Linked DNA regions of Homo sapiens. The protein of the gene in region 2 purifies or fractionates together with the protein of the main gene of each other region. This does not show direct contact. Each region holds a gene or a part of one and is shown on either strand. Other genes may lie near its edges.

Region 1 (3,500 bases), on a different chromosome or scaffold from region 2:
CGTTTCTGTGGCTGAAAGGCTCAGAAGCCATCTGTCCCCACAAAGCTGGGCTAGAGGAATCTGGAGAGGAGTCCTCCTCTCTGCCCCTGTCCCCTGCAGTGTTTCCCTTCACTCTCTCCGCCTATCTTCCCTTCCTTTGGGATCTTCCCTTTCCTCAACTCTTTCCTTTCCCTCCAGCTCTTTGCTTTGCTTTCTTTTGGTGGCTGTCACTCCCAGCTCTGTCTTGTTCCTTGTCTTTGTCTTTCTTCCCTTCCCCCTGCCCCTGCCCCTACCAGCCCAGCTTTGGGGACACCATCCTTCTGGGGAGAAGTAGGGGGAGGAATATTTGGATGGTCCCTCCATTCCTCTTCAGGCATCTGGAGGCCCTCTCCCCCACTCCTCCAAAGAAACATCTCAAATTATTGATGGAATGTATCCCCATTCTCAGTGAAAATGTGAGGAGGGGACTAATACTGGGGTAAAGGGTCAAACCCCCACCTTCATCACTATGGGCATTATATTTAGGGAGTAGTTCTTGGGCTGGATTTTCTGGTTGTGGAAGTGGGGGCGCCAGAGTAGTGTGTCTGCTATTTAAAGGAGCAGGAAAGGGCGTGAGGCAGGAGGAGAGACTGGTGGAGGGAAGAGCTGCTCCTCCCATGCAGTGCCCGACTCCCTGCACCCCTCTCAACCTGACCTGAACCTTTATTGAATCCTTATTAGCTTGAATCCTTATTAGCTTGAATCCTCCATGCAAATCATGGAGTCTGTGTCCCACCTGATGTGGTTGAGGAGAAGCCAGGTCTTCAAAGAGGGGTCAGCCTGGGGCAAAGCAGGACTGGGGGGAGGTGGGCAGCAGGGCCTATTCTGAGAATCACATATTGTTACAGGCCTTGCACCCCCTTTGCTGCTTCCCTCCTGCTCATTTGGGGCTGCCACCAGCTCTCCACCCTCCTGGTTCCGCTGGCCGGGCCAAGAGAGGATGGAGGGATGGGAGTCCCAGGAGATCCTTGTAAATAGTGGGGTGGGACTGTTCTGAGTGATCACCCGAGCACTTAAAGCTCCAGAGTCCCATTCTTCCTGGATGGAGCAGGTGGAGGTGCAGAGGGGATTTCCTCCTCTCCTTCCTCCTGTCGAGAATTAACACCTCTCCACAGCCTTCCCCTCCAGAACACCAGCCAGGGAGGGGTGGGGAAGGAGGTCACAGCCAAGAAAACTGCCCTGTGACGACTTCCCTCCTTCCCGCCTATGTGAGCCATCCTGAGATGTCTGTACAATAGAAACCAAACCAAATGGGCACCCTCGGTTGCCGGGGGGCAGGTGGGGAGGGGGGTGGGAAGAAGGGATGTCTGTCTGTCGTCCCCCTCCCCCTCTCCACTCTTTACCCACAAAGGCAGAAGACTGTTACACTAGGGGGCTCAGCAAATTCAATCCCACCCTTACCAATTGAGCCAAACCTAGAAACAAACACAAAACACGAATAGTGAGAGACAAAATAGAGGAGAGAAAGAGAGCATGAGAGGGAGCGAGACAGGCGACCAACACAGAGGAGAGAAAACAAAAATAGCAAAAAAAAAAAAAAAAAGCAGTTCTTTATAATTTAATATTCTATTTTAATAAAGGCGTTTATTACCATATAAATGTAGCAAAGAACCTGGGCTAATATGAAAAAAAAAGACTTTTTATTAGGTAATTTATTATATGAAAAGGATATTTTATTTTATGATAAAGTGATCCTTAAAAAAATAAAAAAACTTTAGAAGGTTTAGAATATATGTAGGGAGAGAAGAAGAAAAAAATACATTTGTATTCAGAGTTAAATCTTAAAAAAAAAAAGTGTTTTTAATATATGTTTGGGTTTACGTTGCTTTTTTCCCCCACTTTTTTTTTGGGGAGGAATGTCATTTGCTTTTCTTGGGGGAGCATCCCGGGGGTGAATGGTGGAGAGAGGAGCTGGGGGAACCCGGTCCCTCCTGGGACCCTTCCAGTAGATTGGATTTCACTCCATGGACTCCTCCTCCCCTCTCCCCCTCCCCCTCAGGGGAGCCGGCAGAGCCAAACAAAGAAAGGGATTAACAAGAAAGGAAGAAGCTGTAGGACTAAGGACTGAGGATCCTGGGGTGTCCCCCACCACTTTCCCCTGCCCTGTCGCAGGGGCAAGTGAGGAGGGGGAATCCAGAATTAAGGCCTAGCAGGCCTATAGGAACCCTCAGAGATGTGTGAGATTTAAGAGATCTAGATTTTTTTTTAACCAAAAACAAGAGAGAAAGAGAAGAAAAAGAGAAACCGAGGGGTTTAAAAGAAAAGAATACTACAAAATAATAATTATTAATAATAATAATTCAAATTTATTTCATATAATCCTAGAGAGAGAAAGAAACAATTACTAGTTACTTAGTAGACAATATTAAGATAGCTTAAAGTTTAGTAGCATTGAGGGCCCCTGGGTCCAGTAGAATGTATAAAAGTTGTAAGGAAAAGATAAATAGAGGAGGGAAGTGGCTGAGTCCACCCTGAGTTGCCCAATCTTCAGATACCAGGGTTGGATCAGGTTGCTAGTTTAAGATTGGGAGCTTCCAGTCTGCTGGGGTTGATTCTGAGAATCCTTGGATTTTTAAATTGTAGGACAAAGAAATGAGGGGTTCATTTCCCAGGGTCTTGGAAAGGATGCACACTGATCATCTCAATAAGACAGGGGCTGGGTTGGGGGCAGCAGAGGAGGCCAAGCACATTCACCTGCACCCCTAGTACCTGGGCAGCCCATACTCCAATGTGGTATGTCCCCTCCTGGGGCTCCCAGCTCAAACCCTCCCATGCCTGCTTCCCCCAGGCCTAACTGAGGAAGTCCTTCTTGAAGTGTGACCTCGGTCCACTTCTCTACAGATTGATTTAAGAGCCTGGGAAGTCATTCCACAAACAGACACACATGCACACACGCTTCTCACCTTCAGAGCTTCAAGAGCACTGAGGCGATCAGTCCCCTACCCCTGTTCCCATCCAGCTTTCCACTTAGCTTTGACCTCCATGGCAGCAGTAGCAGTAACAATCTCAGTAATTGTTCTTTAAAGCTGACTCGTTCTTCACCTACTTGCAAAGTGCTTTCTTGTCTCATAAAAGTTAGATTCCAAGAAGGACTTCCCACGGAGTGGAGTGGAAACACTGTCCTTGAAGGCCTGGGAGAAAGGCATCCCCATGGGCACAGAGGCTGGGGAAAGGCACAGGGACTTTGGGTGACCCTAACCCTGACCCTCTGCTCCAGTTCACCTCCATCTATATGTGTTCAGGTAGGGGTCATCTACTGTACCCTGGCCTGGGAACACATTGCCCTCCCCACACAAAACTGGAGGGCTTGGCTTCTGCGTGTGAGAAATCAACATTTTTAAAGCACTTGCCTTCTACCAACCCCAGCTTGCAATCACTGGGCCTTCCCCTCCTATCCAAGGGGTTGGAGGGGCCCCTTGGCTCTCCTTTTGGCAGGAGGAGCCTGCTTCATTACACCAATGACTCTGCCATCCCCCTCCCTG
Region 2 (4,649 bases):
GACCCTCAGTCCGCACCATGGTCAGGATGGTGCCCAGCACGCCACGGTACTGCACGAGCCGGGCCGTCTGGACCGCCTGGTTCTCCCCCTGGATCTGAGGGACAATAGCAGGGGGTGAGGACTCAGATGGGAAGGCAAGAAGGGGCTGCGTGCACAGGAACCCTGCTGGGGCTGGGCCTGCCTGGGCTGGGCCTGAGAACAACCATGCTGGTCACAGTAGAAATCACTGGTGTCTGCGCAGCATTTTACCATTCACAAAGCAGTATTATACACATGGCTTGGTGTTTGATCCTCAGAGTAAATCAGAGGGACAGATTGTTTTTCCCATTTTATAAGTGCTTCGTGGCTTGCCCAAGGTCACACAGTTAATTCCTTACTTTTACCTCACACTGCATGCTTTACAAAGTAGGGCCTAGCCCATAAAGGGCCCTGTCACATCATGCAAAGAATTTAGATTTTTTTGTCCTGGTGGATGGTGATGGGAGGAGGCAAGGAAGGGTCCTAAGCAGTGGAGTGAGAGTCTTTGTCAGGGTTCTGAGGAAGGGCATGTGGGCACACGTCATGGGGGATATGGGAGAGAACTAGCCCCTCCTTCCATGTGATCAATGACCCTTGGCCAAAGGGCACCTACCTGCAGGCGGACCTTGGCTGTGTCCAGTGGAAAGGTAACGAGGTCAGCAAAACAGGCTGCTGTGCCTGCCCCCAGGAACTTCACAGCCATGGTGGGAGGCACGTCTGAAGGCTTCAGTCCAACCATAGTCCTGGAAGGCTCTGCCCAGTCCCTTTAGGGCCGAGAGGAGGTCCAAGGAGAGAGGCTGCTCCACAGCCCTGGGCTTCAGTGCAGCGGTGGGGCTGCAGGAGACAGGCCAGAGAAGGCTGATGGAGTGATGTCTGGCCTGGCTCCCAGGAACTCTTCCTTACCCAGGAGGGGCTTTAGAAAGGGAGAAGCCTGGGTGGTGCCATACTTAAGCTGCATGAATTTGGCCTATAAAAACAGGTCACGTTCCTATCCCTTGAATTTTGCAATCCTCCTCCTGACCCTCTCCCTCCCCTCCTTACCAGGGGTAGGCAGAGCTGATAGTGGTACCTGCACTGTATACATGAGGAAACCGAGGCTCAGGCATCTGTTCTCCCCAATATCAAACTGCCTCCTTTTTTTTTTTGAGACAGGGTCTCACTCTGTTACCTGGGCTGGAGTGCAGTGGTGCAATCCAGGCTCACTGCAGCCTTGACCTCTTGGACTCAAGTGACCCTCCCACCTTCAGCCTCCCGAGTAGCTGGGACTACAGGTGTGCATCACCATACCCAGCTAATTTTTTATTTTTTGTAGAGATGGGGGTCTCTCTATGTTGCCTATTCTGGTCTTGAACTCTTGGCCTCAGCGTGATCACTTGACAAGAGGGGCAGTTCTTAGCCACTCATGGAAAATGGAATGGATGGACACAGACTCAGGTCAAAAGCCCACCTTGGGGCTCTAGAACTTTCAGTAGTCAAGCTGCGGGAGGAGGGAAAGCCACAGTGGTGGGCACAGGTAGGAGGTGCCTTGAGGCCAGCACTCCCCAATCTTCTTCCCAATTCACTCCAGACTCTCCTAGACCCCTAGCAGCCGGCAGCCTTTTGCCACTGGCCAGTGGAGGAAGAAGTCAAAAGTGGAACCCTCATTACTGTAGCTCTGCTGGGGCTCCTGAGGGATGGGATGTTCTAGTCAGCATGGTCCATTAATGTTTGCTGGTTGCTTCTTGCACCAGATACCGTGCTGAGGGCTTTACAGACACTGACTGATTTGATCCCTTCATAAGGCTACAAGTAGTTGCTATTATTATTCTCATTTCGTAAACCAGGGACCTGAGGCTTCCAGGGCTTTTGCTAGTCATACAGCTGAAGTGCTGGAGCTGAGATTGGTGCCCACGTTTGTCTGACATCTGAAGCTGCGCCTGTTTCACTGCCCAGAGAGTCTCAGACTTCAGGGAGAGCCAAGGATCCCTTGAGCTGCTTGTTTACAGAGCAGATTCTCAGCTCTCAGCCCCAGAGATCCTGATTTAGGTCTGGGGTGGGGCCTAGGAATCTGCATTAGGAAAACTCCCTGTGGTAGCTCTGAAGCAGGGGAAGAGGACCCCATTTTGAGACATCCTACCCAACACCAGTTGCCTCCCCAACTCCAACCCACCCTCCCGGCAAAGCCTTCACAGCAGCCCACTGAAGAAGCCGTCTGGGCAGAGACCATGGGCTCTGTAAAGCTCCCAGCAAATGACCTGGACCACGCCTCAGGTCAGAAGTGCCCCTGTCATCCCTACTCAGGAAGAGGGCCCCAGGGTCCTCATGGAAAGAGAGGGATTTATGCTCTGGAGGAATCGCAGAGATTCTGGGGCAGGCAAAGAAGAAAGCCACTTCCTGTCTATGGGGATTTGCAAAATCCCACCAGAGGCAGCCAGCAAGGCAAAGGGGGTGTGAGTCTTGAGTGAGTGACACGGGTGTTGGGTTCAAGCCCCAGCCCTGCCACAGTACCCTCATCAAGGCCACAGCTCCCTTTTCATAAGGTGGCGGCTGGACTGAATCTCTATCAGGTCTGACAAGCTGCAGCTAGTGAGCCCTGACTGCTCGGGGCTGCTCTCTGAAAGCCTCCAATGAAAGGGAGAACAAGGAGAAGGGAGAGGGAGAGGGGAAGGGATGAGGGAGGAGAAAGGGGTCTTACCTGTGAGTCCTGCCACGGCAGGGGCAGCACAGGGGCTCCCTAGGGCTCCATCCCAGGAGGTGGCAGCAGGGATTGGATGGCCCCTCCTTGTCATTCACTGTTGTCTCTGCTGCTTCTGGCTTGGCACTGGTCTTATACACACGGGCTGACCTGAAACCTTATCCTAGAGAAGTTGGTTGACAGCCTGATCACTTGACAAGAGGCTGGCTGGTGAGGGCAGTGAGGTGAGAGGGGAGGTGAGTGAGTTCCAGATCTGGTTCAGTCCTCTTGACTTGGGGTGCTTTAATATAGCTCCTTTAAGCTGTGGACGCTTCCTTGGTGACAAGGGTGTATGGGGGGGTGGACCTGCTGCCACTTTTGAGTCCAAAGGTCAAGGCCTCCCACGATAGGCTGGGCACAGCTCTCCCAGGTCTCTTAATAATAATGTCATTTCTTTGTGCCTACTATGTGCTAAATATTTTACATACATTACTACTATTTTCCACAATCCTATGAGATAGGTACTATTAGGATTCTATTTTTTTTACTTTTTTTTTTTGTAATTTAAAATTTTTTAGTAGAGACGAGGTCTTGCTGTGTTCCCCAGGCTGGTCTTGAACTCCTGGGCTTAAGTGATCCTCCTGCCTCAGTCTGGCAAAGTGCTGGGATTATAGGTGTGAGCCACTGCACCCGACCTAATTTTTTTTTTTTAAATTACAGATTTATTGATATAGAATTCACATACCGTACAATTCATCTGTTTCAAGTGCACAATTCAAATGGTTTTTAGTATATTCTGAGTGGCACAACCATCAACACAATCTATTTTAGAACATTTTCATCACCCTCTCACCCTGGAAAAACTCCATACACATTGGTAGTCACCTCCCTTCCCCCGCTCCCCAGCCTCAGGCAACCACTAATCAATCTACTTTCTGTCTCTATAAATTTGCCTGTTCTGAACACTTCCTAGAAATGGAATCATCCAATATGTGCTTGTTTGTGACTGGCTTCTTTCACTTAGTATAGTAATGCTTTCAAAATTCATCCATGTTGGAGCCTGTATCAGTATTTCGTTTCTTTTTAGTGCTGGGGATCCTAAAATCTTACCACTTATTTTACTGAGGAGGAAATGGAATCTCAGGGAAGTCATGTAGCCAGCACGTGGCGGGGCCTGACTCCAGCCTGTAAACTGTAAGGCATTTTGGGCTTATCTACTGTGACCACCATTCTCTCCAACATGACACTTGGAGGCTTTAGCATGGACACTGCTGGAGCCAAGGGAGCTGGGACCTGGTGGAAGGGTGCCCCACAGAAGCTACTGGAGGCTCCATCTGTGGGCACTCAGAGTAAGGGCTGGGCACAGCTGAATCGGGCCCCAGGTGATGGGGGAAGGGGAGAAGAAGAAGAGAAGGGAGGGGAGGAGTGAGAAGCAGAAGGGAGGGAAGGAAAGGGAGTTAACTGGGTAGGGCAGAGGAGGAGTAGGCAGAAGTCTTTTCTGGACTGGGGCACAGAGCCAGCGTCACAGGGCAGGTGGTCAGAAGCATGGATGTTCAAGTGCAAAGCTTGGGCTGTACCTGTCCTCTTCCTTGGACCAGGCCCTGACCTTAATGTCAGCAGAATAAGCAGCTGCATTAGTGTTAAGAGGGAAGTGGCTGTCAGGGCTGCTGAGATTAGGAAGGCTCAGGAAGTAGGTTCTGAGCTCCATCTGTAATTGCTAGTCTAGAGGTGATGCAGTAAATTGCAGGGAGTCTGTGGGGGAAGAATAGAGTAGAAGCCCAAACCAGGAGGCAGCAGGCTCTGGAGAAACCTAGTGGGAGGGAGGGCCAGGCTCTCTTTAGCTTGGGAGCTTGAGGGCAGGGCCAGGTCTGCCTGCTTTGGCTCCATGTCCTGAGGCCAGCCCATGCTAGAAGTCCGAAGGCTGCCTGCTCTGGGTTGGGATGCAACCAGCCTAGGGATCAGAAACACCTATTCACAG
Region 3 (4,114 bases), on a different chromosome or scaffold from region 2:
GAGATAAGTTCTATTCCCTTGGACTTTAGTCAGTTAATGTTGTATACAGTACAACAGGTAAGATCTTGAATTGTCTCCTATGTATTTATATATGTACCTGGCATTTCCTGCCTAGGTCACAGATTGTAACTACATGGGTGTTTATGCAAATAGTCCTCTTAAAAATATATCCTTATCTTCCATTTGGAAGAAGGGAAAGGTCTTCATGTTCAGATTTAATGTTGAAATTTCTTGGTTGGGTGTGGTGGCTCATGCCTGTAATCCTAGCACTTTGGGAGGCTGAGGCAGGAGGATTACTTGAGCCCAGGAGTTTGAGACTAGCTGGGGTAACATAGTGAGACTCTATCTCTATTTTAATTGGGATCTTTTTTTTTTTGGTTCCTTTTTTTGTGGAGAACGAGGTCTTTCTATATTGCCCAGGCAGGTTTCAAACTCCTGGGCTCAAGTAATCCTCCCACCTCTGCCTCCCTAAGAGCTGGGATTACAGGCACAAGCCACTCTGCCTGGCCCTCCATCTCTATTTTTAAAAAAAGAAAAAAAAATGTTTTTCAACTTGAAACTACAGAAACTAATTTTCCAAGTATACTACAAAAAAATTTCATGATAACTGGAGACGTCAAACCAGCTTCCAAGCACTTGAAGAGGAAAAAAATAATAAGAATAGAAGCCACGTGTAACAGATATTTTTAAAGAACTGAAGATGTTTATCTTAAGAATTACTCTAAAATTGAAAGAATTGGTCTAAGATTTTACTCAAAAGTTTGGATGAAATTAATAACTGACATTTCTTGAGCATTTATAATATTCTAGGCACCATTCAAAATGCTGTGTATGTATTAACTCACTCCTCTAAACTTAATGAGGTTAATACTATTATTATCATTCTGATTTTATAGGTAGGGAAACTGAGGTGAGGCATGGAGCAGCTAACACTAGCAAGTATTAGAGCTGAGATTCACAAACAAACATATGCAGTCTGGCTCCAGAAGCCACATACTTACCTGCTAAACTGTACTGCCGCTTGATATTAGAGCAAATTAACCACAAAAGGACTATTTTGGCCATCTGGCAAATAAATAGCTCAGATTTATTTTGTTTCATTATAGTTTTATTTTTTCCTTCAATGATCAAATTCATTTTTATTATCCTTGAAATTTCCCTTAATATTCTTGTATACATCTCCTAGTCCTAAATTTTAAAAAATGAATGATACTCCGGGTTCTAATTAATTGATGAAACCTTATATGGCCATTAAAAATGATGTTTTTACAAAGATTTTTAAGAATACAGAGGAATGCTTATAACATAAAGTAGCACCATGTAAATTAGGCGGAAGCCAGGCTTCCCCCTCCCACCTCCTCAAGAAAACATCTAGAAAACAGATGAGAAAGTTTCATTGTGCTATCATTGGGTAGGAAAATTAGGAATAATTTCTTATGTACTTTTCTTAACTTTCTATAAATTTAACTGAATACTTTTATAGTCCAAAAAATGAAATAGATTTCATTTTTTAAAAGGCGAATTGGAGCCTTTCATTACAGAAGTATAGTCTGCAGCTCATCGTAATAATCTTATTGCATAATTTAGAATCACTTCCACAGAGCCCTTGGCCATATAAGTGAAGGCGGCACAGTTCAGACCTGCACTGTGATACGTGGCTGTTTAATTAAAATTTAAAATCCAGCTCCTCAGTCACACTAGCCCCATTCCAAGTGCTCAGTAGCCACATGTGGCAAGTGACAGCTTTTCTAGCATCATAGAAAATTCGATTGCCCAGCATTGGTTTGGAAGAAAAAACAGGGAATCTGGAGCCAGAAAACTTGGAATCAAGTCTGCCTACAAGCTGACACTTGCTGTGTGAAATGGGGCAGTTTACTCAACCTAAGCCTATTTCCCCATGACCAAATTGGGACTGAGGATAATACCATGTACCATATACAGAGGTTAAGAAAATTAAGAGAATGCAGGTGACAGTTCTCTGAAAACAATAGTGTGGTTTACCAGGTAGATGCTGCTTCCCAGTCCCCCAGCTTGAAGTCAGTCTAGCTCTTCAAGGACTGATTCCAAATCTTTGAATGCTTCACACCAAGAATTTTACCTGAATGCCACCATCAAAATCAGATTAGCTCTTATTACAGTTCCTGGACCAAGCCCGTGGCAATGTGCACATTTCATTTCTTCCTTGTAAAAAGCTTTAATACACAGCTCTCTCTATACAATGACAGCTCCTAAAAGTTTTCTTTAATAATTTAAAATCTTCACTGTATTTCCATTCCTACAATTAAAAAGACTCCCTTAAAAAAGAAAAGAAGAAAGCTGTGTTCACCAAAGAAATACATGGAGTTTGTCAAATTCCATATAACAAGGAAATCAGGTGGAGTTAACGGTGCAGGAATGAAGCAAAAGAACGTGAGGTTTTTACCAAAAATGAGAGCAGCTTCGCAAAACTTCAAAGCTGTCGGGGTACTGATGAAATGGAAGTACTTGCTCATTCTGATTTTTTTTTTTCTCTCCTAACTCACTTCTGGTTTTTGCTGCAAGACAACTTGACTATTTTAGACAAATGTAGGGCTGCTGCATTTCCAGAACGCCTCCATCCTATTTCTCATTTAAACCACCTCCCCTTCCCCGTGGCCTATTAATGCATACTTGCAAGGCTGCGAAACACAACCCAAAAGAGGCAAGATCCAGCGGTTCCCCACTCACGCTTCTTTCTGCTTCCCCAGGTTTCCGCCAGCTGTGGATGCCTTTGACATTATGACCGCAGAGGATTCCACCGCAGCCATGAGCAGTGACTCGGCCGCCGGGTCCTCCGCCAAGGTGCCCGAGGGCGTGGCGGGCGCGCCCAACGAGGCAGCACTGCTGGCGCTGATGGAGCGCACGGGCTACAGCATGGTGCAAGAGAACGGGCAGCGCAAGTACGGCGGCCCACCGCCCGGCTGGGAGGGCCCGCACCCGCAGCGTGGCTGCGAGGTCTTCGTGGGCAAGATCCCGCGCGACGTGTACGAGGACGAGCTGGTGCCCGTGTTCGAGGCCGTGGGCCGCATCTACGAGCTGCGCCTCATGATGGACTTTGACGGCAAGAACCGCGGCTACGCCTTCGTCATGTACTGCCACAAGCACGAGGCCAAGCGCGCAGTGCGTGAGCTCAACAACTACGAGATCCGCCCGGGCCGCCTGCTCGGCGTGTGCTGCAGCGTGGACAACTGCCGCCTCTTCATCGGCGGGATCCCCAAGATGAAGAAGCGCGAGGAAATCCTGGAGGAGATTGCCAAGGTCACCGAGGGCGTGCTGGACGTGATCGTCTACGCCAGCGCGGCCGACAAGATGAAGAACCGCGGCTTCGCCTTCGTGGAGTACGAGAGCCACCGCGCGGCTGCCATGGCTCGCCGCAAGCTCATGCCTGGCCGCATCCAGCTGTGGGGCCACCAGATCGCCGTGGACTGGGCCGAACCTGAGATCGACGTGGACGAGGACGTGATGGAGACCGTGAAGATCCTCTACGTGCGCAACCTCATGATCGAGACCACCGAGGACACCATCAAGAAGAGCTTCGGCCAGTTCAACCCCGGCTGCGTGGAGCGCGTCAAGAAGATCCGCGACTACGCCTTCGTGCACTTCACCAGCCGCGAGGATGCCGTGCATGCCATGAACAACCTCAACGGCACTGAGCTGGAGGGCTCGTGCCTGGAGGTCACGCTGGCCAAGCCCGTGGACAAGGAGCAGTACTCGCGCTACCAGAAGGCAGCCAGGGGCGGCGGCGCGGCTGAGGCAGCGCAGCAGCCCAGCTACGTGTACTCCTGCGACCCCTACACACTGGCCTACTACGGCTACCCCTACAACGCGCTCATTGGGCCCAACAGGGACTACTTTGTGAAAGGTTAGTGGGGGCTCTTCTCCTGGGTGGGGCCCCCAAGAACGTTGCCTCCTAGGCAGGGGGCACCAGGGATACCGTGGCTGGCATTTGCTGAGCTGGTAGGTGCTGAAGGCCCTCCCACCCCCGTTTTGGGTTTGCATTCTGGGTCTAATTCTTTCCTGGCACCGAAGGCCGTCACTTATGCAGCACTGATAGAAATACAGATCGTTCTGGGGTGAGCGGTAAAATCACAGGAAT
Region 4 (4,114 bases), on a different chromosome or scaffold from region 2:
GAATGTAAGGTCCAGCGGGGTAGACAGCCCACATTCCTGAGCCACCTGCTGGGGCCTCCCACTAGGGAAGAGTCACAGACTCCTCATACTTCACTAATCCATCAGGACAACCCCACTCGGAGACATAAATAATCTACCCAGGGTGCCAGGCAAGTAAGGAGAGAAACCAGGACTTGGACTTATGATTCTCTGGCTCCAAAGTCAGAAGGATTGAAGAAAGGATTTTTTCACATGAGGAGACTTAAGCTAGTGGCAGGAAACCACTAGAGAGAGAAGATGAAGACACAGAACAGAGAAGGGCAGGCAGTGAGTGACGGAGCCGGGTTTTGGAGAAGATGGGAAAGAAAAGAAAGGCCGGGCATGGTGGCTCACGCTTGTAATCCCAGCACTTTGGGAGGCCGAGGCAGGCAAATCACGAGGTCAGGAGTTCGAGACCATCCTGGCCAACATGGTGAAACTCCATCTCTACTAAAAATACAAAAATTAGCTGGGCGTGGTGGCGCGAGCCTATAATCCCAGCTACTTGGGAGGCTGAGGCAAGAGAATTGCTTGAACCAGGGAGGCGGAGGTTGCAGTGAGCTGAAATCACACCACTGCACTCCAGCCTGGTGACACAACGAGACTCCATCTCAAAAAAAAGAAAAGGGAAAAGAAAGGCTCCATCAATGGCTCGGCAAAGAGAGGGTAAATGACGCACGGTACTCACTGTAACTTCAGCATAATCTGTTGGCATGTGAATTTGTTTTCCATTTTCCTTGTTTGACTGACTGGCTATGTCTTCACTTTTTTCATTTTTTTGACTCTTGAGCCATAGTTCGTAAAATTGCTCCATATCTTGTACTAAAGAAAAATGAATTACTTTCAGCAGCAGCAACTAAACTCCATTTAAATACATGCAACTATGTGCATATTTTGTAGCAGTCAGCATACAGTTCAAAAGAAACTCAAGGGGGCTGAAGGAGACTATTATATTAGACATGGAGAGATCACCCAGTTCAAGCAGCAGGTAAACTCTCACGCATAAGAACTACTTTCAGGACTGTTAGATGGCAAATATTAGTTCTCAGGATTAATTAACCCCTCCCTGCATTTGCACGACACTTTGGGGATGTTTAAAACTCAGAAACCATTATAAACAGTATTGTCACAAAAGCCTCACCACTGCCTCTGTCGCCCTACGTTCCACACTCAGTGTCAGAGCTAGAACCACACAAGGCTACTTACGTGGCTTGGGGGACTTGGAGCTGATACACTCCTCACTGCTTACTGAGAAAGATGAGAAACATACTACTACTGGACCAAGATTCTGACCCTGATGGGAGTCCATCAGTCAAGCCACAGTCCCAGAGGGCGGATATGCTGGGCTGCAACTGACAAGACAACCATGACCAAGTCCTGGGCAGTGGCTGCCAGTTGCTTCCTATGGTAAGAACAGGTGTATTCTGCATTATTGCCAAGTGCTAAAGCTGAGGTTTCTCAGCCTCCATGTGGTTGACATTCTGGCTAGAGAATTCTTTGCTGGGGGTATGCCCTGTGCATTACAGGATGGTGAGTAGCATCCCTGGCCTCTGCCCACTAGATGCCTGAGCAACTTCTGCCAGTCATGACAATGAAAATATCTCCAGACATTGCCAAATGTCCACAGGGAAGGGGAGTGGCAAAATTTGTTCCCAGCCGGGCACGGTGGCTCACGCCTGTAATCCCAGCACTTTGGGAGGCTGAGGCGGGTGGATCACAAGGTCAGGAGATCGAGACCATCCTGGCTAACACGGTGAAACCCCGGCTCTACTAAAAATACAAAAAATTAGCCGGGTGTGGTGGCAGGCGCCTGTAGTCCCAGCTACTCGGGAAGCTGAGGCAGGAGAATGGTGTGAACCCGGGAGGCGGAGCTTGCAGTGACCCGAGATCACGCCACTGCACTCCAGCCTGGGTGACAAAGCGAGACTCTGTCTCAAAAAAAAAAAAAAAAAAAAAAAAAAAAATTTGTTCCCAGTTGAGAACCACTGTGCTAAAAACTCTGGTAATGAGGACCTGGTTAAAACTTGGCTTTGTTGTCTGCCTAATGGTTTCTAACAATGTATCATCAGGCAAAGATTAGAGATAAACTAGAAATGCTTCTTCCTTAAGACCAGTGGTGGCAGGAGTCATTGCAAAAGCCTGGTGCGCAAGGGCATCTTCAGTCAGGCCGGACTACATAGCCTCACTCCCAGCAAGACAGCTAGAGGGAATCCCGTCCACACACCACTGACGATCTATGTGGTTGAAACATGGCAGGCAACAGTCAAATCTGGTTGGTTCTTATAATCCAGAGACTGCAGTCAGTATACCTTTCATCAGTTTACTTAAGATTAAAGAATAATGATCCTTGTAGTAAAACATTTTATGGTCAAAAGTGAAAGGCTGTCTGCGGCTCCTCTCAAAGGCTCCCACAATAAACTTGGAATTTGACCAAAATAAACATTCTTTCCTTGGACCTCTGATTCTGAGCCTGTTTGATTAGTAATGCCTCCCTGAAGAAACTGCCAATTCTAACCTGGTTAATTCAGAGGGCAAACTATTTCCAATACGAGCAGATGATCTGATTTAAACAGTCAAGGGAGTACTGAACTTCCCCAGGCCATTTTTTAGGAATACATCTATTACATGTAAGGATGCATGCAGACCTATATATTTATATCCAAATCTGACCTAACCAAACACAGATCAGACGCCACATTCTACCCCACTGAGGCTGTGCCCACATTTTCCAGGCATCATCGCCAACAGAGCTACTGATGAAACGGGGCAACCGTTTAGAATGCAAACTGCTTTCTGTGTTCACAGGAAGCTGGCATATTTATAGAGAGGAAAAGAACTTTCAGGCAAGCTAGCTCAAGGACACAGCTAAAAGATTAACTTACTCCCATTCTCCTTCATGTAAGTCCAAACTTCTCTTTCCTCAGGACTATGAGCAAAGGAACAGTTTCCAACATATTGACATTTTTTCCCAGAAGCAATATGGTTGCACAGCTGTATAAAAAAATAGGAATATGATTAAGACAAAGTACACCTAGTAAAACGGCCTAATTTTTACATTTAAGCAAAAGAAGCATTATTATCCATGCTAATACTTAGTAATCAAATTCTAAAGTAAGATTAATTTGACTCTACTCAAATTAACTATATGCTCTAAATATATGAAATGATATTAAGGTTTCTATCTCAAAATTTTTCAAAAGAAAATGTCCAAAACAGAGTAAAGCATGGAACATTTTCTTACAAGAAAATGTCTACAAACTCACTTACTCAGAACATTTAATCTCCACAATGAACATCCCTGGCCCTCTCAGTCTGACAGCTCCTGTTTCCCTGCCCAACACTAATGATTCCTCCACATCAGCACTTGAAAGCAGTAAAGAAACTGCAGGCTACTCCAAAGGGTACTGAACAGTGCCCAAAACATTTCAGAAATTTAACTTACTTATAACCAGTACTGGAAACTAACCTCGGCCATAATTCACTACATATGCATTATCAGAAGACAATTATCACACTAGCCATACCATGGAGTTACACAGCTTTCAAATAATACCTCTTCAGGTTATTTGTATTTTTATTTAACAAAGTAAATACAGTGATACTGGTAGGAAAATAAAGTGATCGTGATCAGCAGAACGCAGACTTCCCTAAGAATTATGAGCCAGGAACCAAGAAAACCTCCATCACGGAGAATGCATTCTTGAATACCATCAACCTACTTGTCTGTATGAGGTATAAATCCTAGTACAACTAATTATTAGCTTATCTTAGTTTGTGCTTCAACGGCAGCTGGCCCTACATTATTTAGCTTACGTGGCATTAAATGCTTAGCATCTGTCACGTTTTTCAGAGTTTTGGCTAAAACTCGCTCAGCCCCCTTAACACTGTACATTTCCTCCCTTGGACCAATGTCAGTGACCCCACCCTTAAAATCTTCTGCATAAAGTCAGTACTGGATAAAATAGTCATATTCTTTCCCCCGTCAAACCCCAGTAAGTACTTAGTCATATTACTAGGGAAACATTTACCATAGTCTTTCAAAGCTCAATGATAAGGAGCAGGAAGAAAAGCAGGTAAAGGAGAAGGCCAGGCACTG
Region 5 (4,114 bases), on a different chromosome or scaffold from region 2:
CACTCCCATCACCCAGGCTGGAGTGCAGTGGCACGATCTTGGCTCTCTGCAGCCTCGACCTCCTGGGCTCAAGTGAACCTCCCATCTCACCATCTCAGCCTCCCAAGTAGGTGGGACTACAGTCACACACCACCATGCCTGACTAATTTTTTTATTTTTTGTAGAGATGGGGTTTCGCCATGTTGTCCAGGCTAGTCTCGAACTCCTGGCCTCAAGCAGCCTGCCCACTTCAGCCTCCCAAAGTGCTGAGATTACAGGTGTAAGCCACTGTGTCTGGTGGTAGCTAGTATTCTTACAAAAAGTCTATGATATTTTATCAAATCTAAAATGTTGTTTGCAAGAGGCAACATTTTATACTCCATTAACAAAAATATACTGGCAATTAAATTAAGATACACTATCAATTGTAGATGCACCTTGATTTCATAGTGTGTAACTTGATTATAAACACTGAAAAGAGATTTTGTGCTTTACAAGGAGGACTTCAAATATCAAGATACTAAAGGAATGAATGAAGTATTTTGGTTTATTGGATTTTCTATTAAATCAGAAAAATAATTCCTTTCTGGCTTTAATATGTAGCACATGATGTACAGAATTTCATCTCTTCCTAACTTGTAAAATGGGGATAATAACTACCTGAAAACCTATGGTAAGAATTAGTAATAATAAATGCTGAATACTTTCTGTCAAACCTAATGCAAAGTAGACCCTCATTAAATATGTTATTTCAAATCTAGAGTCTTGCTTTGATTCAATAAAATAATTACAAACATGAATTCTATAGCACATGTTCTTTTTTTTTTCCCCCCTAATGTTCAACTAAAGCATCACATAGCTCAGAGGTGTCTTTTGGCTTCCGTGGGCCATACTGGAAGAATTGTCTTGGGCCACACATAAGATACACTAACACTAACAATAGCTGATGAGTTAAAAAAAAAAAAAAAAAACTTTACGAATTTGTGTTGGGCTGCATTCAAAGCTGTCCTGGGCTGCATGTGGCCTGAAAGCCAGACAAGCTTGATACAACACATGTTCAGAAGAAATCATGGAGAATTTATTACTGACACATTGGTTTTTGGTTTTCCATATATACATCCCTACATAGACCTTATTGTTTCATTTACACTATTATATAAAAAGTCAAGTGAAGTAAAAAAAAGTAACAACAACAACAAAAAAACCTGTTTCTGGTCAAAGCTTTGATTACATTTCTTTTCATATCACCTGGTGAATAAATATATATGCTTATATAAAAATATTTCTTATCCACCAATATCACTTATATACATAAATTTTAGCCACAGAATTGAATATGTAACTATAATGTAATCTAAGGTTTTGTATAAGGATATGACATTATCTAAAGAAAATCTTTCGCAGAATACAATCATGAAAATCAGGTACATTGAAATTTATTTTTTACACCTTAATGATCACTAAACATACTATATACCTATTACTGAATAAAGTTCAATAACTATTTCATGTAACAAATTATTAGGTTGCTGCAAAAGTAATTGCAGTTTTTGCCATTAAAGCCACATAAGATGGCTGGGTGCAGTGGCTCACACCTGTAGTCCTAGCACCCTGGGAGGCTGAGGTGGGCGGATCACCTGACGTCAGGAGCTCCAGACCAGCCTGGCCAACATAGTGAAACCCCGTCTCTACTAAAAATACAAAAAAAATTAGCTGGGTATGGTGATGTGGGCCTATAGTCCCAGCTACTTGGGAGGCTGAAGCAGGAGAATCGCTTGAACCCAGGAGGTGGAGGTTGCAGTGAGCCCAGATCACGCCACTGCACACCAGCCTGGGTGACAGAGTGAGACTCTGTCTAAAAAAAAAAAAAAAAAAAAAAAAAAGGCCACATAAGATACACTAACACTAACGATAGCTGATGAGCTAAAAACATAAACATAAATCACAAAAAAAATCTCACAATGTTTTAAGGAAGTTTATGAATTTGTGTTGGGCCGCATTCAAAGATGTCCTGGGCCACATGTAGCCTGCAGGCTGGACAAGCCGTTAAAATAATGGCAAAAATAGTGATTATTTTTGCACCAACCTATAGTAAAATCTTGAATGCTTACCTGGGCTCCAACTAACTGGAGAAGTGCGAAGTTGACAGGAAGTACATCAATATCTGTGTTGATGGCAGTCTGGTCAAAAGGACAAGCTTTTCGATGAAGTTTATTCAAGCAGGTCTTGCAAACAGTGTGTGAACAACCTAAACTGATGGGTTTGTGCACATTCTCATCAAATTCATTATAGCAGATTGGACAGGACAGAAATTCTGTCCATTGAGCTGCCTGCACAGGCATTGTGGAAGCTGGATGCTCGGGTTAGCAGTCTAGCAGATCATTATTTTGCTGTGTAGTGTTTTGTAAGCTAGAAATGGACAAAAGTATGAATTAACCACATATTCATCATTCACCTTTGAAGAGTTAATTGCTTAAGTCAACTATTACAGCTTCAGACCTAAAATACTTCTAAATAATTTTATAACCTTTGGATGTCTTTTTTAAAAAACCTATTTGCTGAATTAATTACATTTCTGAAATTCTGCCTGGAAACAATACCTTAATAGTGTTCCTTTCAACTAAACTGTATTTATATTGGTTGCTCACATAATAAACATCAAAGCTTTTATGTATTTTTCTCAACGACCACATCAAACAAGCAAATTAACTTTCCATATTCCATTTTTAGGAACACAAATTACTTTGGACTGCTGGGCGGTTTTTTTGTTTTGTTGTTTAAAAAAGTGTTTCCCTTGGATAACCAGTACCCCAAAACATAATAAAGTATGGCCAGGAGTTAATGAACTTTGGAAACTACTGATCCAAACAATATTGTAGAGACTCAAGTGTGAAGAAAACAGCTTTGCCACCTGAAAGAGGAAATCTCTGACAAGACTTGGCTAGGAAGCAAAATGAGGCACTGAAAATCAACATATAAGAGAAGACTGTGATGACTGAGAGATGATTAAGAGAGCTGTTTGTTCATAAATGAAAGACTAATGCTGACCACAACATACAGTGCCAAAGTAAAACAAAAAAATTGTCTTAAATATCTTGTATTGTTCAATACAATACTTCTGATAAAACTACATTATTTAGCGATTGATATATATAACCAAAAACTGTAAAGTCCAATGAGGAAGACACAGAAGAATAAAACATTATTCTAAAAAGTTATATATGCATGATTAAAAACTGAAAAGGCACATAGAAAAAAACAGTGAGAGAATTTTTCTTATTTCTGAGATCAAAATGTTCCTGCTGGGCGTGGTGGCTCACACCTATAATCCCAGCACTTTGAGAGGCCGAGGTGGGAGGATCACCTGAGGTCAGGAGCTTGAGAACAGCCTGACCAACATGGATAAACCCTGTCTCTACTAAAAATACAAAATTAGCCAGACGTGGTGGCACATGCCTGTAATTCCAGCTACTAGGGAGGCTGAGGCAGGAGAATCACTTGAATGTGGAAGGCGGAGATTGCAGTGAGCCGAGATCACGTCATCGCACTCCAGCCTGGACAAAAAGAGCGAAACTTAATCTCAAAAAAAAAAAAAAAAGTTCCATAAGTTTAGTAAAGTAAAAGATTTAGTAGCAAAACGATACTAATTTGAACACACTAAACTTCCCAGAATTTCTTTATCTTCCAATTCAAGACTTAACATAAGTCTGACAAAAGCTCTCTGGTGAACAAGAAATCTAGGTATTTAGGGCAATCAAACAACTAATACTTTATTTCACAGGAATGTTTACCAACCCAAATATATTAGTTCCACAGAAATTAGATGTTTAAAAATGTAGTCACATTCAAAGAGAAAAAATATATAACAGAAAGTATTCTCAATTATGCCAACATACAAAAAAATTCTATTAGCCTTTATTGTGTTTTTTTTTTTTTTTTTTTTTTTTTTTTCAGAGACAGAGTCTCCCTCTGTCGCCCAGACTGGAGTGCAATGGTGTGATCTTGGCTCACTGCAACCTCTGCCTCCCAGGTTCAAGTGATTCTCCCGCCTTGGCCTCCCAAGTAACTGGGACGGCACCCACCATCATGCCTGGCTAATTTTTGTAGAGACAGGGTTTCTCCATGTTGGCCAGGC

The links.
Region 1: the proteins of UCP3 (region 2) and MEX3A purify together in Homo sapiens (affinity purification with mass spectrometry, with the first as the bait; one large-scale study listed by BioGRID). This does not show direct contact.
Region 3: the proteins of UCP3 (region 2) and RBM47 purify together in Homo sapiens (affinity purification with mass spectrometry, with the first as the bait; one large-scale study listed by BioGRID). This does not show direct contact.
Region 4: the proteins of UCP3 (region 2) and ZC3H7A purify together in Homo sapiens (affinity purification with mass spectrometry, with the first as the bait; one large-scale study listed by BioGRID). This does not show direct contact.
Region 5: the proteins of UCP3 (region 2) and RC3H2 purify together in Homo sapiens (affinity purification with mass spectrometry, with the first as the bait; one large-scale study listed by BioGRID). This does not show direct contact.

The regions. Positions count from the first base shown.
Region 1 is NC_000001.11:156,072,466-156,075,965, reverse strand, and holds part of MEX3A (RNA-binding protein MEX3A), read left to right. Parts: 3' UTR 1-3,500. UniProt on the Homo sapiens protein: RNA binding protein, may be involved in post-transcriptional regulatory mechanisms.
Region 2 is NC_000011.10:74,006,286-74,010,934, forward strand, and holds the start of UCP3 (putative mitochondrial transporter UCP3), read right to left. Parts: upstream 2,801-4,649; 5' UTR 2,693-2,800; exon of another isoform or gene 853-2,692; 5' UTR 758-852; coding exon 632-757; intron 95-631; coding exon 1-94. UniProt on the Homo sapiens protein: Putative transmembrane transporter that plays a role in mitochondrial metabolism via an as yet unclear mechanism.
Region 3 is NC_000004.12:40,437,537-40,441,650, reverse strand, and holds part of RBM47 (RNA-binding protein 47), read left to right. Parts: intron 1-2,726; 5' UTR 2,727-2,757; coding exon 2,758-3,880; intron 3,881-4,114. UniProt on the Homo sapiens protein: Single-stranded RNA-binding protein that functions in a variety of RNA processes, including alternative splicing, RNA stabilization, and RNA editing. Functions as an enzyme-substrate adapter for the cytidine deaminase APOBEC1.
Region 4 is NC_000016.10:11,755,531-11,759,644, forward strand, and holds part of ZC3H7A (zinc finger CCCH domain-containing protein 7A), read right to left. Parts: intron 3,010-4,114; coding exon 2,901-3,009; intron 841-2,900; coding exon 707-840; intron 1-706. UniProt on the Homo sapiens protein: May be a specific regulator of miRNA biogenesis. Binds to microRNAs MIR7-1, MIR16-2 and MIR29A hairpins recognizing the 3'-ATA(A/T)-5' motif in the apical loop.
Region 5 is NC_000009.12:122,895,189-122,899,302, forward strand, and holds part of RC3H2 (roquin-2), read right to left. Parts: intron 2,389-4,114; 5' UTR 2,322-2,388; coding exon 2,091-2,321; intron 1-2,090. UniProt on the Homo sapiens protein: Post-transcriptional repressor of mRNAs containing a conserved stem loop motif, called constitutive decay element (CDE), which is often located in the 3'-UTR, as in HMGXB3, ICOS, IER3, NFKBID, NFKBIZ, PPP1R10, TNF and in many more mRNAs.